Linked DNA regions of Homo sapiens. The protein of the gene in region 2 interacts with the protein of the main gene of each other region in a biochemical or structural test. Each region holds a gene or a part of one and is shown on either strand. Other genes may lie near its edges.

What was found. Proteins that work in one complex are often made in the same cells at the same time.
Region 1: the proteins of MRAS (region 2) and RAF1 form a complex in vitro, tested with the Homo sapiens proteins (one study listed by BioGRID).

The regions. Positions count from the first base shown.
Region 1 is NC_000003.12:12,654,118-12,657,617, forward strand, and holds part of RAF1 (RAF proto-oncogene serine/threonine-protein kinase), read right to left. Parts: intron 1-3,500. UniProt on the Homo sapiens protein: Serine/threonine-protein kinase that acts as a regulatory link between the membrane-associated Ras GTPases and the MAPK/ERK cascade, and this critical regulatory link functions as a switch determining cell fate decisions including proliferation, differentiation, apoptosis, survival and oncogenic transformation.
Region 2 is NC_000003.12:138,355,074-138,358,669, reverse strand, and holds part of MRAS (ras-related protein M-Ras isoform 1 precursor), read right to left. Parts: exon of another isoform or gene 3,252-3,596; intron 1-3,251. UniProt on the Homo sapiens protein: Signal transducer in the Ras-MAPK signaling pathway that regulates cell proliferation and survival. Core component of the SHOC2-MRAS-PP1c (SMP) holophosphatase complex that regulates the MAPK pathway activation.

The DNA of each region.
Region 1 (3,500 bases), about 130 Mb from region 2:
AGTAGCTGGGACTACAGGCGCATACCACATGCCTGACTAGTTTTTTTGGTTTTAGAGATGGGGTCTCACTATGATGCCCAGGCTGGTTTTGAACTCCTGGCCTCAAGCAATCCTCCCTCCTTGGCCTCCCAAAGTGCTGGGATTATAGGCATGAGCCACAGAGGCTGGCCCTAAATACATTATAGAATAAAAAAGTATGAGAGGCCAGGCACAGTGGCTCATGCCTATAATCCCAGCATTTTGGGAGGCCAAGGCGGGAGAATCACTTGAGCTCAGCACTTCGACATCAGCCTGGGCAACATGGCAAAACCCCATCTCTACAAAAAATACAAAAATTAGCTGAGTGTGGTGGCACACACCTGTAGTCCCAGCTACTCAGCAGGTTCAGGAGGGAAGATGGCTTGTGCCTGGGAGGTCAAGGCTACGGTGAGTGGAGATCGCACCACTGCACTCCAGCCTGGGCAATGGAGTGAGACTGTGTCACTCACAACACAAAAAAAGGGTATGAGTATAAAGTAACTACAACTGTGTGTATCAACTTATAGAAAAACTTTATTCATTTTTTTTTTTGCTTATTTTTCTTCTTACACCTCACAAGGATGAAAGAAAGTGTTCTTTTTAAAAAGATGTCATTAATTGTGTACATAATGTATCCCTTTGAACAACATTATACACAAGTTTAAGAGGGAGGAAAAAACCCATCAGATCCAAATATAGCCAAATTCAAAGGTTCTGGTTTGCCCATTACATCTAAGTAGCAATAAGAAGAAAAGGAGGGCTGGGCGCAGTGGCTCAAGCCTGTAATCCCAGTACTTTAGGAGGCTAAAATGGGAGGATCAATGGAGGCCAGGAGTTCGAGACCAACCTGGTAAACATAGTGAGACCCCCCCCCCGCCATCTCTAAAATAGTAAAAATAATAATTTTTTAAAATGCAAAAAGCCTACAACCACTTCACAGTCATTAGGGTTGTTATTTTATTTATTTATTTTTTGAGACGAAGTCTCACTCTTGTGGAGTGCAATGGCGCAATCTCAGCTCACTGCAACCTCTGCCTCCCGAGTTCAAGCGATTCTCCTGCCTCAACCTCCCAAGTAGCTGGGATTACAGGCATGCGCCAACAAGCCCAGCGAATTTTTTTTGTACTTTTAGTAGAGACGGGGTTTCACCATGTTGGCCAGGCTGGTCTCGAACTCCTGACCTCAGGTGATCCGCCCGCCTCGGCCTCCCAAAGTGCTGGGATTACAGGCATGAGCCACCGTGCCCAGCCCAAGATTGTTACTTTAAAAATTAAAAAAGAAAAAATAACAAGTGTTGGAAAAGATGTGGCAAAACTGGAACCCTTGTGCTTTGCTGGTGGGAAATGTAAAATGGTGCAGTCACTGTGCAAAACAGTTTGGCAGTTCCTCAAAAAGTAAACACAGAATTACCATATGATCCAGTAATTCTACTCCTGTGCATTACCCTAAGGCACTGAAAGCAGGGGCTCCAACAGATATTTGTACACCAATGTTCACTGCAGCATTATTTACAACAACCAAAAGGTGGAAATAATCCAAGTGTCCATCACTGATGAGGAGATAAACAAAATGATATATTCATACAATGAAATATTATTCAGCCATAAAAAGGAATAAAATACAGATACATGCCACCACCACATGGATAAACCTCAAAAATGTGCTAAGTAAAATAAGCCAGACAAAAAAGGCCAGATAGTGTATGACTCCCCTTACATGAGGTACCTGGAATAGGCAAATTCATAGAGAGAAAGTAGAATAGGGGTTACGAGGAACTGGGCATAGGGAGGAATGAGGAGTTCTTGCTTAATGAGTACTGTTTCTGTTTGAGGTAACAAAAAGGTTCTGGAAACGAGTAGTGGCGATGGTTTTAAGACATTGTGAATGTTGTTAAATGTCACTGGATTGTAGATACACACACACACACCCCACCCCCAATCCGCCCCCTTCCAACTTACATAAGACAGCCTAGGGGTCCATTTTGCATTGTCAGGCAATACTAGATAATACTAGCCAGGGAAATCACAATCTCTCCTCTCAAAATCACACTATAATGCTGGACCAGACTAAGGTCAAAAATGGTAGAAGATTATCATTTATCCCCCCATTCTCTCTGGGTATAACTTTCTTCCATATCTAAAACCTATGAATGCAAAAGGAAATAGCCAGCATGGTAACAGCTGCTTGAGCTGAAGAGTCAGTGTCCTGCTAAAGCAGGCAAATGTCATCAAGGAGCTAGCAGGCAGAACCTAGAGCACTCTACATATAATGCCCAATAGAGGGAGAAGCTTAAGCAACTTACCTCCTCCAACAGACAGGTCCTAAGTTACAAAGTTCTAAGTTTGAATTTAGTAAGTGTAGCCTCTTTACTGTAAGCATTTTGGAGAGATGGCAGTAGAGTGAAACTAAATCCATAAGTGATTAACCTCTGATTAATGTTTGCTGTGTAAGACAAGGTTTTGAGAACTGGAGATATATAAAAAAGGATAAGACATGCCCCACTGGAAATATATAGGCAAGAGTAAGACATGCCTCATTTTTAAACTGAGACATAAGACATCTATACAAGAAATTCAACTTGGCCACTGCGGTGGCTCACACCTGTAATCCCAGCATTCTGGGAGGCTGAGACAGGTGGATCATCTGCAGTCAGGAGTTCAAGACCAGTCTGGCCAACATCATGAAACCCCATCTCTACTAAAAATACAAAATTTAGCCGGGCGTGGTGGCAGATGCCTGTAATCCCTGCTACTTGGGAAGCTGAGACAGGAGAATCACTTGAACCCGGGAGACAGAGGTTGCAGTGAACCAACATCACGCCACTGTACGCCAGCCTTTGTGATAAGAGTGAAACTCCATCTCGGGGAAAAAAAAAAAAAAGAGGAATAGATAAAAGTAAGGAAATGTCAGCCTCTCTCAATTAGATAAGGTCCTTGAAGGTAGGAACTTGCCTTATGCTGCACCAAGTGCACTGGCCTGCACCTACAGGGGCCTAAAAATACTGGCTTTTGATTTCCACTAAACATACTATTACTATGAGAAAGCCATGTGAGCAAGACACAGAAGCAAGAATTGTATATACTTAGTCTGGTAGCCAGGGAGAGCCTGGAAGATTTGAGCAAGAAAGTAAGGCCAGCACATCTACCCTTAAATATTTTTGTGTCGTCACAAAATAGGATACATAAGAATTCACATTTCCCTCTGTGAAAGGAAGCTGGGTAGCTAGAGAACAAAGGAGAACGTAGAATAACTATGCACAACATAACTTTCTATATCCTTTAAATTTTGTGACATCTGACATTATTACTTACTCAAAGAAAATAATATTTAATTCTTAAGAATTTCCAGGCAGGGGCCAGGCGCAGTGGCTCACACCTGTAAATCCCAGCACTTTGGGAGGCCGAGGTGGGCAGATTACCTGAGGTCGGGAGTTCGAGACCAGTCTCACTATCATGGAGAAACCCCATCTCTACTAAAAATAC
Region 2 (3,596 bases):
ATGTGGGCAGGGCCCACCCTCTGTTCTATTCTCCACTGTATCTCCAATGCCCAGCACATATCTGGCACAGAGAAGGTACTCAATAAATATTGTCAATCTACATCATCTCTAATCCTTATGTTACAAAATGTTCTAACAGGAAAGGGAAAAAATAACACCTGGCTTTGCCCTGGTCATTAGGAGAGGACTGATTTGACCTGGCTAGTAATAATGATAGCTTAATAATCCCAGCACTTCTGCTGGTTCTTACTGTAGGTAAAGGTAAGGTCTAGAGTGCCTAATTCTTTTTTAGATGAGTTATTTAATGGCCCCTTTATATCTTTGTTTTTTTTTTTGAGAGAGTCTTGTTCTGTCGCCCAGGCTGGAGTGCAATGGCACAATCTTGGCTCAGTGCAGACTCTGCCTCCTGGATTCAAGCGACTCTCCTGCCTCAGCCTTCCAAGTAGCTGTTACTACAGGAACATGCCACCAGGCCTCACTAATTTTTGTATTTTTTTAGTAGAGATGGGGTTTCACCATGTTGGCCAGGCTGGTCTCGAACTCCTGACCTCAAGTGATCCACCCACCTCAGCCTCCCAAAGTGCTGGGATTACAGGCGTGAGCCACCATGCCCAGACCCCTTTACATCTGACAAGGGCAGCCCACAGCCTAGTCTAAGACAGATTGTTATCCTTGTTCTGCAATCAAAAGTAATGAAAATTTGGAGTTTTCAGAAGGTCTGGGGGAAAGTATCCAGGAAAATTGGTCCCTGGAAAATAGCAGTAAACTAGGTTTGAGGAGACAGCCACAGAGACATTCTCCAAGGGTGTGAGCAAGCAAGGGGAGGGTGTCTGACATTCATTTTTAACTTCTGCCCTGATCTGGGCTGCAGACAACTCCCTTTCTTAAAAGCCCTTGGTGGATGCCTGTTACATGCAATAATAGTGGCTTAGCAGATGAAGAAGCCAACCTTACTGTATGCACATGGGGCAAAGTGGAGTGGAGGCCAGGCGGCCAGTGGGCATGGCCCATACCCTGAAATCTTCAGAAATACTGCAGATGGGGAGGGCTGTCATCAATACTTGGGCAATTTTTAAAGAAAATAAATGAAACCCTCAGAGAATTTCTACAAGGAGAAAATCCTTTGGAAGAATTAAGAAATACTGGGGGATGTACCTCTTCATTTCCACATGTCAGGTGAGAGCCTGACCCAGTATAACTGGACTAGAGAAGAAAGGCCAGAGTGTGGCTGGGATACTCCCATTACAGATATGGAAGAGGAGGCTATAGAGGTGGAGATTCACACAGACAAGTAGTGGGACAGAACTGGAGCAGAGGGTTCCTTCAGGAAGGGAGGACTGAAAGTCCCTGAGTCCCCAGGCTGCCAATTCTGCAGCCCGGCTGGGTGGCCTCAGACCCCTCCCTGCCTGAACACCAGGCACTGCCAGAGGCCCCGCTTGGGGCAAGGGCGGCCCCACCTTCTCCTTCCACACAAAGGGGCTCTCCCAGCCCTGCCGTCTTTCCTATTTACCCACCCCAACCCTAAATAGAAAAAGTTCCTGTTAAATGCTCTATTAGAATGGTTATTTTGTTGAAGTGCCAAGTGACCTGCTCCTCCTGTTCCCTGCTTTCCATCCCTCCAGCCATACCCAGTTGGGAGTCCAGAAATAAAACAAAGGCTTTGTTTCTTTATTTTGATTTCCTCCTAAAATCTCAAACATGCAGGAAACACCCACCCAGCCCCAGATTAGTGGATTCAGGCAGCTGTCCACTGCGGTGGGTGGGACGGGGGGACGGGGTCAGTGAGTAGGGGTGGATGGGAAGGCTATGATGCCAGCTGGCCTTAATTGCTTGGGAGTGCCAGGGCACCTGGCCTCTCCTGGGCTGGACTTCCTCAGCAGGAGCATGAGACAGACTAGGCCTTCCAGCTCTGCCCCAGGAACCTCAACCTGAGGAATGTGGGTGGAGAGGGAAGGCTAAGGAGGCATAGCTCATAGAAGTTTTTAAAAATATACGCCCCCAAGTCTTCGGGACAGTGATCCCACCCTCCTTCTATCATCTCTGGTTATAATAAAGCAGACATTGAAAGAAGACCATGATAGACTGGTGAGAGCAGTGTTGGCCAAGAAAGACGGCTTTGCCTGTCTCCTCCTTGAGCCTCCATTTCCAGTGGAGTGAAAATATAAAGAAATGAATTTGTGGGTTATCTAAAAAGGGAGAATTTTCAAGAAGGCACGTTGAAATTCTAAAGGATCAGGAAAAAAAGCTAAACTGAACCAAAATTAATTTTGCTTTTGAAATGAATACATAATGCTTTTGAGAGGCAAGAATCTGCCGCCAACACCCCCCATAAATGGTCAGCTCCTAAAGGGGTGGGGGAGTCTCCTGAATCCACTACACTCCAGCAATCTCCCCACAGATCCACATGCCCACAAATACTTTTACATTTAATCTGTGTACTTGGTATACTAGGGCCAGCCTAATATACAGTATGCCAAGTAGTTTCTTTTTAAACCCAAACTTGTCTTTAAAAAGGTATGCCTGTAAGTATAACACATATGTGGATTTCCACATAATCTCATAGGCACTGGTTGTATAATATGTTCAACTGCCTTCACTGGTACGGCTTCCATTGCAAGATAAGCCCCAGTAAAGCAGGGCCTTCTGAGGTCTCTCAGCACCCAGCCTTCGCTGGCTTTTGCAGCATCTCCATCAGAATGAGGGAAAAGGATCTGGTGGTGCTATTTTTTATTTTTATTCTTTGAGACAGAGTCTCTCTGTCGCCAGGCTGAAGCACAGTGGCGCGATCTCAGCTCTCTGCAACCTCTGCCTCCCGGGTTCAAGCAATTCTCCTGCCTTGGCCTCTGGAGTAGCTCAGACTACAGGCACACACCACCACGCCCAGCTAAGTTTTATATTTTTAGTAGAGACGGAGTTTCACCATGTTGGCCAGGTTGGTCTTGAACTCCTGACCACAAGTGATCCTCCTGCCTCAATCTCCCAAAGTGTTGGAATTACAGGCGTGAGCCACTGCATCCAGCCTGGTGGTGTTATTCTTTAAGGGCAACTCAGGGAAGGAAAATGTTTCAAGACATTCTCAGCACTTAATGAAGAGGACTTGGGGTCTCCCGCAGGTCCCCACTATCTATTATGAAACCAGATGAAATCTCGGTCCCCAATAAGGACTGACAAGAATCTGCCCTGGATAAGAAAGCCTTTCCAGAAGTTTTTGAATCTTTCTGCACAGCTTTAAAAAGCAGAGCTTTACTCACTGTTCTAACTCATGGCAAACTACATGCAAACAGGATAACACCAGGCTTCAGCTCAGGAGTCAATCAGTAGGTGGAAAGGAGAAGGCTGCAAACAGTTGGGTGAGAAGCTGCGTCCTGTCGTCATGGAGAGCTTCTAACTGCAGATGCAGGGTTGGCTCTGCCGCCTTACTCCTGCTTGGCAGAGAGAAGGACCCAGTACCAGGCACCTGGTTTTTTCTGTGAAAGCTGCAGGAAGGGAAAACTGTGAAGTTATGGATTACAAAGTAAGCCATCATACTTTTAGTTTCCTTCTCTTAAAGTAATCCTATACTTTAGAGTATATAATGTATTTTGTGTCCAGGTGTG